Regions from separate parts of the Homo sapiens genome. Here region 2 is reported to be linked to region 1. The links are microRNA targets in miRTarBase. Many come from high-throughput screens and were not tested one by one. Region 1 holds a microRNA gene; the other region holds the end of a gene's coding sequence.

What was found. The annotated mature microRNA hsa-miR-3692-3p reads GUUCCACACUGACACUGCAGAAGU and lies in region 1 at 1,486-1,509, shown strand. An mRNA with a match to its seed (bases 2 to 7 or 8) in the 3' UTR can be bound and repressed. Matches are read on the target gene's strand: a 7mer-m8 pairs with bases 2 to 8, a 7mer-A1 pairs with bases 2 to 7 and ends in A, and an 8mer does both.
Region 2: miRTarBase lists LRRC2 as a target of hsa-miR-3692-3p. Seed matches in the 3' UTR shown: 7mer-A1 at 296-302.

What each region holds. Positions count from the first base shown.
Region 1 is chr6:157,527,690-157,532,136 of GRCh38, forward strand. It overlaps MIR3692 (microRNA 3692), which reads left to right and starts at 1,443; the gene lies at 1,443-1,511. The region is part of intron 1 of ZDHHC14 (zDHHC palmitoyltransferase 14); the gene reads left to right. RefSeq lists enhancers at 3,060-3,965, 3,966-4,447.
Region 2 is chr3:46,515,482-46,519,481 of GRCh38, forward strand. It overlaps LRRC2 (leucine rich repeat containing 2), which reads right to left. Exons shown (of 9, transcript NM_024512.5): 9 at 1-3,582. The coding sequence ends at 3,533. Among named protein-coding and RNA genes, the nearest start is that of RTP3, 20 kb to the left of the region's middle. RefSeq lists a silencer at 1,518-1,812.

The DNA of each region.
Region 1 (4,447 bases):
CAAGTTTCACAAGTGCTTTAAACATGAAGCAGTGTTTTCTTGGCAGCCATGTAACGGTCTCTCAGGAAGTTGTTTCTGGAAATGGAAAGACTGTTCTCAGAACTTGACAGTTCTTTAGGGCTCCAGTTATTCTGAATGTTGAAGCCAACTGGACAATGTATGACGCAAGCCTAAGAGGGATAGGGATGTAGCTGTAGGAGGGGCTTTCTGATCCTTCTCTCTCTCCATTGTATCACTCTGCAGTTTCCCTGTTGATTCTCCAACTTTGCCATCTGCTTGGCAAAATTCAAGAAAGGTGGCACTTATTTAATTGATTGTAGCTTTCATGGCAGTCACACCTTCCAAGCCTTCCATCAGGCCAGCCAGGCATGATTTCCTTTGTTTCAGTCCCTCTTGGTGTTCTCTAATTAAATATGCTTTTTCCAGATGTTTCTCCACCGTATTCTTTAAGGTTGTTTCCACCATTTTTCCCTAGATCTAATGTCCATTATTTTGCCTTTTGCCCTTCTCTTTTTAGTAATCAGTTAATAATCGTGTTTGCCATGGGGAAGTCCTCAGGAATACTTCTGTTGTATTTCAAAATGAGCTGAACAGTTTTTTTGTTGTTGTTGTTTTTTAATCTCAGAAGTGTGTGGCTTAAAAGAAAAGTAAAGAAATGATATGAAAGTTTAACCATAGATGAATATACTTGGAAAAGCACAAGTAGATGAAGACTGGGGATGGGAGTGGGCATTAATCAATTAATTTAAAAAGCACGATAGGGTGGGCGCAGTGGCTCACACCTGTAATCCCAGCACTTTGGGAGGCTGAGGCGGGCAGATCACGAGGTCAGGAGATCGAGACCATCCTGGCTAACATGGTGAAACCCTGTCTCTACTAAAAATACAAAGAAATTAGCCAGGCGTGGTGGCAGGTGCCTGTAGTCCCAGCTACTCGGGAGGTTGAGGCAGGAGAATGGCAAAAACCCGGGAGGCGGAGCTTGTAGTGAGCCGAGGTCGCACCACTGCACTCCAGACTGGGCGACAGAGCAAGACTTCATCTCAAAAAAATAAAATAAAATAAAATAAAATAATTAAAAAGCACAATTAGATGAAGACTGGGGGTGAGAGTGGGCATTAATTAATTAATTAAAAAAGCACAATTAGATGAAGACTGGGGGTGGGAGTGGGCATTAATTAATTAATTTAAAAAGCACAATTAGATGAAGACTGGGGGTGGGAGTGGGCATTAATTAATTAATTATAAAAGCATAATTAGATGAAGACTGGGGGTGGGAGTGGGCATTAATTCCTCAACAGCACATGGTATTTTTCAGGTTTCTCCCAATGAGTTCAAAGAGTTTCATTGAAAGTATATCCTTGTAGTTGCTAGTGTCTAGGAGACACACTCAGACTTCCAGTTTTACTCAGCACCTACCACCTGTACTCTTCTGAGGTTCTTTGCCATTCCTGCTGGTCAGGAGTGGATACTGGAGCAATAGATACAGTTCCACACTGACACTGCAGAAGTGGAGATCTCTGGAGTCTCTGCAACCCCACCCTCTCTTCACAGGGAGCAAGTTACTTCTTGAGTATAACCTGGGAATTTTAGAAAGTTTATCTTTTTTCATAAATGAAAGTTTATGTTTTAGCATTGTACTGGTCAGAATCCTCCAGTATTTAAGCAAAACTAACCAGTACGGTCTTTGTTTAGTATACATGTATTTTGCAATAACAGGAGCAGTCATCACCATTTAGTGTCAAGCTTGATTGACAGGGCCCCTGGGAATCTGTGGTTTCTGTTGTGTAGAAACCACAGAGCTTGTTATTCTTCAACTGGAATTGGGAAGCGGAGCCCAAGAGAAATGTTCTTGACCTTCAGTCACTAAGGCGTTACTACCAGACTGCTGGCAATCCATCAATGAGCGACTTTGTCACCCAAGACTCCGAGCTTGTCTTCTCCCCAGACTGGACAAGGCACCTTCACGCAGAATAGTTTCAGGTTTCACTGTGTTCTTAATTACATTTAATGAGGATCATTGAGATCCTTATAAAAAGGTGAAAACAGGTACAGCTGTTATTGTATTCCACTAAGAAAATGTGTAGAGTGCAAAACAGAAGTGTAGGCCTCATTGTGGTACAATTGAGAGACCATGCCTTGGGCCCATGGGCTTTGATGGCGGCCACATCTGATTGACTTCTGGTTATGAAACTTATTAGCTAAACCAGGCTCAAAGTAATGAACCTCTTATAAGTCTTATCAGTCAAATTAATGAACCTTAGTTTCCTCATCTGTGAGATGGTCTCAGTAATACCAATGTCATAGACAATTAGCTGTGTACATTTCTGTAGACATTATATGAAATGTTATATGTGAAACTGCCTGCAATATAGGTACTCAATCAAAAAAATGTGAATTTTCATTTGCTCCCTGCAGTCTTACTATCTGGCTGCCTGTTACTTTGAAAACCATGTGTATGAAACAGTAACAGGCTACCTAAAAAGAAAAAAAGAAAAAAGAAAATGATGTGGGACCACATCTGTGTGTCTAGCAGGCATGGACCTTCCCTCTGGATCTGTTTGTTCTGACCTTGTCTTCTAATTGAGCTGGATAATTACATGGTAGGAACTCTCCCCAACATCAGGGCCGAGAAATGCTGTCACCATGTTTTAATGCAAAGGCACTTTGCCAAGGATAATAGTCGATACCACGGGCATTGTTTTAGGTGAGATAAAGGAATCATCTGTGAATGAATGCTGTGTCCCTTTAGAGAAGGAAAAAATGAATCGGCAGCCCCAACAGCAACCCAATATCCAAAGACTTTCAGTGAATTTCATTTTGTTCATTTTTCTACCAAATATGCACTTTTGAAGCTGTCTTTGCCTGATAGTCTCCAACTTGGTGTCACAGGGCTCGTGGGCTTTAAGCTGTTAACCTTGTTTTATTTCTCCCCTTTTTGGAAATAGAACCATTTTCTCCTGAAATACCTTTGTAGCCTTTTTTCTTTTCTACTCAAAAGCACCTTATTTCCATTTTGCATAATTATTATGTACTATTTTTCAAATTATGATGTCTCTGCTATTGGAAACAACATTGTTTAGTGAGTTTGTGGGTGAAATAGCTTAGCCTTCTGCACTCACATGTGTCTCTGTCTGAACGACTGGATATTTCTAACCTGTATTGGTCCTATATTATCTAATTCCTTGAGGTTTATGATGACGGATATGTTAAAAAAAAAATCTTCAATTCCTCTTTATTCTTAGGGAAACATTGTAAAGCAAAATTTACTTAGAAATTCTTCCTACTTTGCAAAAGAAAGAAGGTGGCCCTTTTTCTCCCCCAGGAGAGAGATCGTTAGCTCAGAGGAGCGCTGTCAGCAGAGGCTGGAGCACACGGAAGTGGGGTCTGCTCAGGTCCCTCTCGGTGTTCATTGCTTCACCTGCATGACGACCTTTGCACCCATCGCTTTGCAGTTCGCCACCAAACGTGGACCCAGATGTCCCGGGTCTGCTCTGATGATTCCACAACATTCAATTCAGCAAATATTTGTCGAGTGCCTATCATGTAGCAGTGTGTGAGGCACTGGGGATGCCACAGTGACTAAACAGCCTACAACGCCCCTGCCCCCCCCGGACATGCCGTTCCAGAGTCCAGTCCAGGGAGGATTACACTGTGCTTCCGCCAGTCACTCGGTGCACCGTCCGAAGGAGGCCTGGAAACATTAGGGTCAGGGAGGGTCTGGGGCTCCCTGTCCTTGCCAACACCCTTCCTCTCTGCAGGTCTCACTCCTGCCTCTGACACCCCCTCCAGAAAGGCTTCACCAACACCCCCCGCTCCGGCCCACTGAGTTGGTTCCCTCCACCGTTCCTCAACACCTGTGTCTCCACACTTGCTCTTTTGTTTGTAGTGTGCTGATTTGCCCCACCCCCCAACCCCCACACTGGAATGTGAGCTGCCAGGAAGCGAGGGTCTTGTCTTGATCTTCCTGCTTTCCTAGCACATGGTGCAGCTTGCTGGCAGGTAGTGTGTATTCAGTGGCTGTGTGCCGAGTGCCTGAATGAAGGCGTGAAGGAGACTCAGTCATCTCCTGCATCCACGGTACTCGTAGACTTGTTCTCCAGCTCTGGAAAAACTTTCCAAGACTCAAATGTGCCTTTTCCCCAAAGGCCTTGAGTTACTGCATCTTCGTAACGCCGAAGACACTTTTCCGTAGCGGTAACATCTGGACTTTGTGCAGTGTGACTGTCCCAGAGGGCCTGGCCTCGTTCTGCGGGATGGGCGTGGGGGTGCCAGCTCCCTGGCAGAGGCCCCAGTCCTGGGTAAAGCTGTGCTCACTGCCTGCCCACCCTGGGTGAGCAATTGAAGCCCTAGTGTGGGGCCCCTGGCCATGGAAGCACTGGGGAAGGAGCCGCTGGGGGAGGAGGAGCAGGCACAGCAGGCGTCTCCTGGTGGCACCAGCAGCCACACC
Region 2 (4,000 bases), not on the chromosome of region 1:
TCTATTTGCATCATGTCAAATTTTCAAATCTCCATATTTTCACAAGATATATATTCTCCTTTGGAATCTTTCTGCACATTTATATGAATAAATTAAATAGTATCTCTACAAACATATTCAAGTAATTATTTGTTTTGGGTTATTATGTAACATGAAATAATTATATATCAATGCAGTATTTTTTTCATATGTGACAGTGAAACAAGGTTTTTAAACAAAAAACTGATTTTATTAAAATAAAATTTACATAAATTATGAACAGTCTATTTGTATGAAAGCCCCTCTTCAGATATATTTTCCACTTGGCCATATGTAACACATACCTTAGCATGACATAAAATTCCAAAATCATTCAAGTAGTAGAGCTAATAAATTTGAATTGTATTTTTAGTGTTAAAAAGAAAAAAATGTAACTATTTAAGATTCAACGAAGGTGATTTCTCATTTTCCTACTCTTTTCATCTCTCTCTCTTTTTTTTTTTTTTTTTTTTTTTTTGAGATGGAGTCTCACTCTGTTGCCCAGGCTGGAGTGCAATGGTGGGATCTCAGCTTACTGCAACCTCTGCTTCCTGGGTTCAAGCAATTCTCCTGCCTCAGCCTCCTGAGTAGCTGGGATTACGGGTGCCCACCACGCCCGGCTAATTTTTTGCATTTTTAATAGAGACAGGGTTTCACTATGTTGTTTAGGCTGGTCTCGAACTCCTGACCTCATGATTCACCCATCTCGGCCTCCCAAAGTGCTGGGATTATAGGCGTGAGTCACCGCGCCCGGCCCTCTTGTCTTCTCTTAGCCTACTTCTCAGAGTTTGTTTCTAAGTGGAAGCAGTCCTCCACCAAAGCACTACCATGTGGTTTTAGAATGCTCTGCCTGTTTTACACCTGTTGAGAATAAAATGTTTGGACTTATGAGTAAGCCCACCAAGACAAAATATTGGGATGTCAATAATAACCTTTTTAAAAATGGCTGGTTCTTCAGACAGAGAAAATAAAAATCACCATACATTTCTACCCCAGATTAACTTCCAAAAAAACAAATAACTAGCTAGACCTGTTCAGGAGTATGGTAGCCACATGTGTGTGGGGTCCCCTAGTTTTCCTCATTTTTGTCTCTGTCCTGACCAAGTAACACATGGTGCCTTGACCCAGCCAGCTGATGTTTTCCTCTGCAGGTCTGAACCCCAGCCTGGGCCTTGAACATTCCTAGGCACTGATAACGGTGCTTAGGTTGTTGCTGGAAACACTGAAAGATCAGCCGTGTTGCTAAACATGTAGAAGCCAGCCCAGCCCCCACCCAAATTCCTTACATCTTCATGTGAACTCCATCCCCCAACCCCCTCGCTGGGGACATGCCCAGGTAGAACATCCCTTGTCTCACTGCCCATCACAAGGACGCTGCAGCCCATGCTGTATGTAAGCTCCCCTCATAAATGCTTTGGACTGATCACCCTGCCATTTAGTGCTTCTTCCTTTAGAATCGCAACTGGCCCCACCTTGGAACGGTTTGGAGCACTCTCTCATGGGAATTTTCCATCAGGTCAAACCCAAGGCTGGAGTTAAATGTGGCTATTTAAATTTAATTGAATTGAAAGATGGGTTCTTCAATCACATCAGTCATTGTTCAAGTGCTCAAGAATCACATGTGTCTGGTTTACCACGTTGGACAACGCAAATACAGAACATTTCCGTCACTGCAGAAAGCTCCACTGGATGGTACTGGGCAAGACCACAGAGGAGATGATTCATATAAAAATATGCCACTATATGCATATTTTCCTTCTTAGTCACAAAAGCTGCTTGTTTTTGTTTTTTTTTTTTTAGTTATAACAATAATAATATTGTTATTGCTGTTTGTTTTGCTTTTGAGACAGGGTCTCACTCTGTCACCCAGGCTGGAGGGCAGTGTCACAATCACAGCACACTGCAGCCTCGACCTCCTGGGCTCAAGTGATTTTCCCACCTCAGCCTCCTGAGTAGCTGGGACCACAGGCACATGCCACCACACCTGGCTAATTTTTTGAATTTTTTTGTGGAGATGGGGTTTCGTCATGATGTCCAAGCTGTTCTCAAAATCCTGTTCTCAAATTCCTGGGCTCAAACAACCTGCTTGCCTCAGCCTCCCATAGTGCTGGGATTATAGGTGTGAGCCACCGTGCCCGGCCAAAGTTATTTGTTTAAGCTTATTTATCTTCAACACCATCAGCCACAACCTGTTTATTTTAGCCCAAGACAGTGGTATAAAAATAAGAGATTGTGTCTAATTTCTCCAAATCATGTGATGTGACATAAGAGCCCAAAGTCTTGTAATGAATCCCACCTCTCCCAAATTCAAACAGCCCATGGGCTCCCTCTGGACTGAAGCATCTTTGCTATGGGCAGAGTTGTCCTGTGGTACCCACAAGGAAGCCTTGCTAGGAACTCCTTATCAGTGTGGACTGGTCATCTCCATTACCCTACATGGCCATCTTGGAGGAAGGGACCCTGAGGGCGTTGCCTTTGCTCTTTACTGAGGTGTGTCCCAGGACCCCCAGGGTGACCACTCAGGACTGGATGGCCATCCATGAAGGCCACTGAAGACTTCCCATGAACAGCCAGGCCCACACTTCCTCAACTAGATCTACCCACGCACCATCTGAGCATCTCATGCCCAAAGCATGGGCAGATATTCCAGCCTTTGTTTCTTCAAGGCCTAGATTGTACCTACAAGTCTCTCCTGGGAGTCTACACTTGCCAAAATATAACTTAAAACATATGGAAATAGCAGTTTATATAAACTCAAGGAAGATTATTCTCAGTAAAAGAAACTCTTTCAAAATAACAAAACACTCTCATCTGATTAGTCCAATATAAATGCTCTTTTCACAATCCCTTTATCTTTTTCTTTTCTTTTTTTTTTTTTTTGAGACAGAGTCTGGCTCTGTCACCCAGGCTGGAGTGCAGTCGCATGATCTCGGCTCACTGCAACTCCACCTCCCAGGTTCAAGCGATTCTCCTGCCTCAGCCTCCTGAGTAGCTAGGATTACAGGCAACTGCCACCATGCCCAGCTAATTTTTTGTATTTTTAGTAGAGATGGGGTTTCGCCATGCTGGCCAAACCAGCCTCGAACTCCGGACCTCAGGTGATCCACCCACTTCGGCCTCCCAAAGTGCTGGGATTACAGGTGTGAGCCACCACACCCGGCCCCTTTATCTTTTGATTCCTGAAAACAATGCACTTAACTTCAGTATTTGGTCTTTTAGTTATAATTCTTAAAAATAAGACATTTTAAAACATATTAAATGTGCATTATTTGGAAAAAAGTATATGCAAATGAACCTGGAAATATCAATATACAAACCAATTTTTCAATTCTCCAGTCCATGGAGGGAGATACTCATGTATTTGACATTTGAAAACCATTTTTTTTAGCAACTATGATAGTGGTTTCTAGACTTTGTCCTTAAGCACAAGCCATTCTTCCTATATGACATGATCATAACAAAGATTTATATATAGCTCCAGAGAATAGTGAGATTTGCAGTCTTCTGATGGATATCAAAGTTGAAGGCTAAAAGACACTTTGGTGGTATAGCTGGGAACAGATTCTGTAACAGAAAGAAAAAAGTATGCTCAATCATTCACCATTTTATTATGAAATCTAGCTACGTGCTATGACATACATAATGAATGTATGTCAATACACCCATTATTGTCACTTCATGTTTTAAGTATAGAGATACTGTATAGGTGATAAATAATGCATTTGTCACCATTAAGTAAGTCATCACAAATGTGCAGTCAAACTTTAGAAATGTTTAGATCTAAGAATCGTTAACTTTCATTCTTTTGCCATCTTTCCAGCCAACTCACAGCTACATCAAGATCTTGGAAGCTATATGACCCTACAGTATTAATAGTTGACAAAATAGAAATAGATGGTCACGGACTTGGGACTGTGGCTAGTAGGTGGCAGAGGGTACCGTTTATAAGAGAAGTTTGGGCTGTTCCTAAACCATACACCAT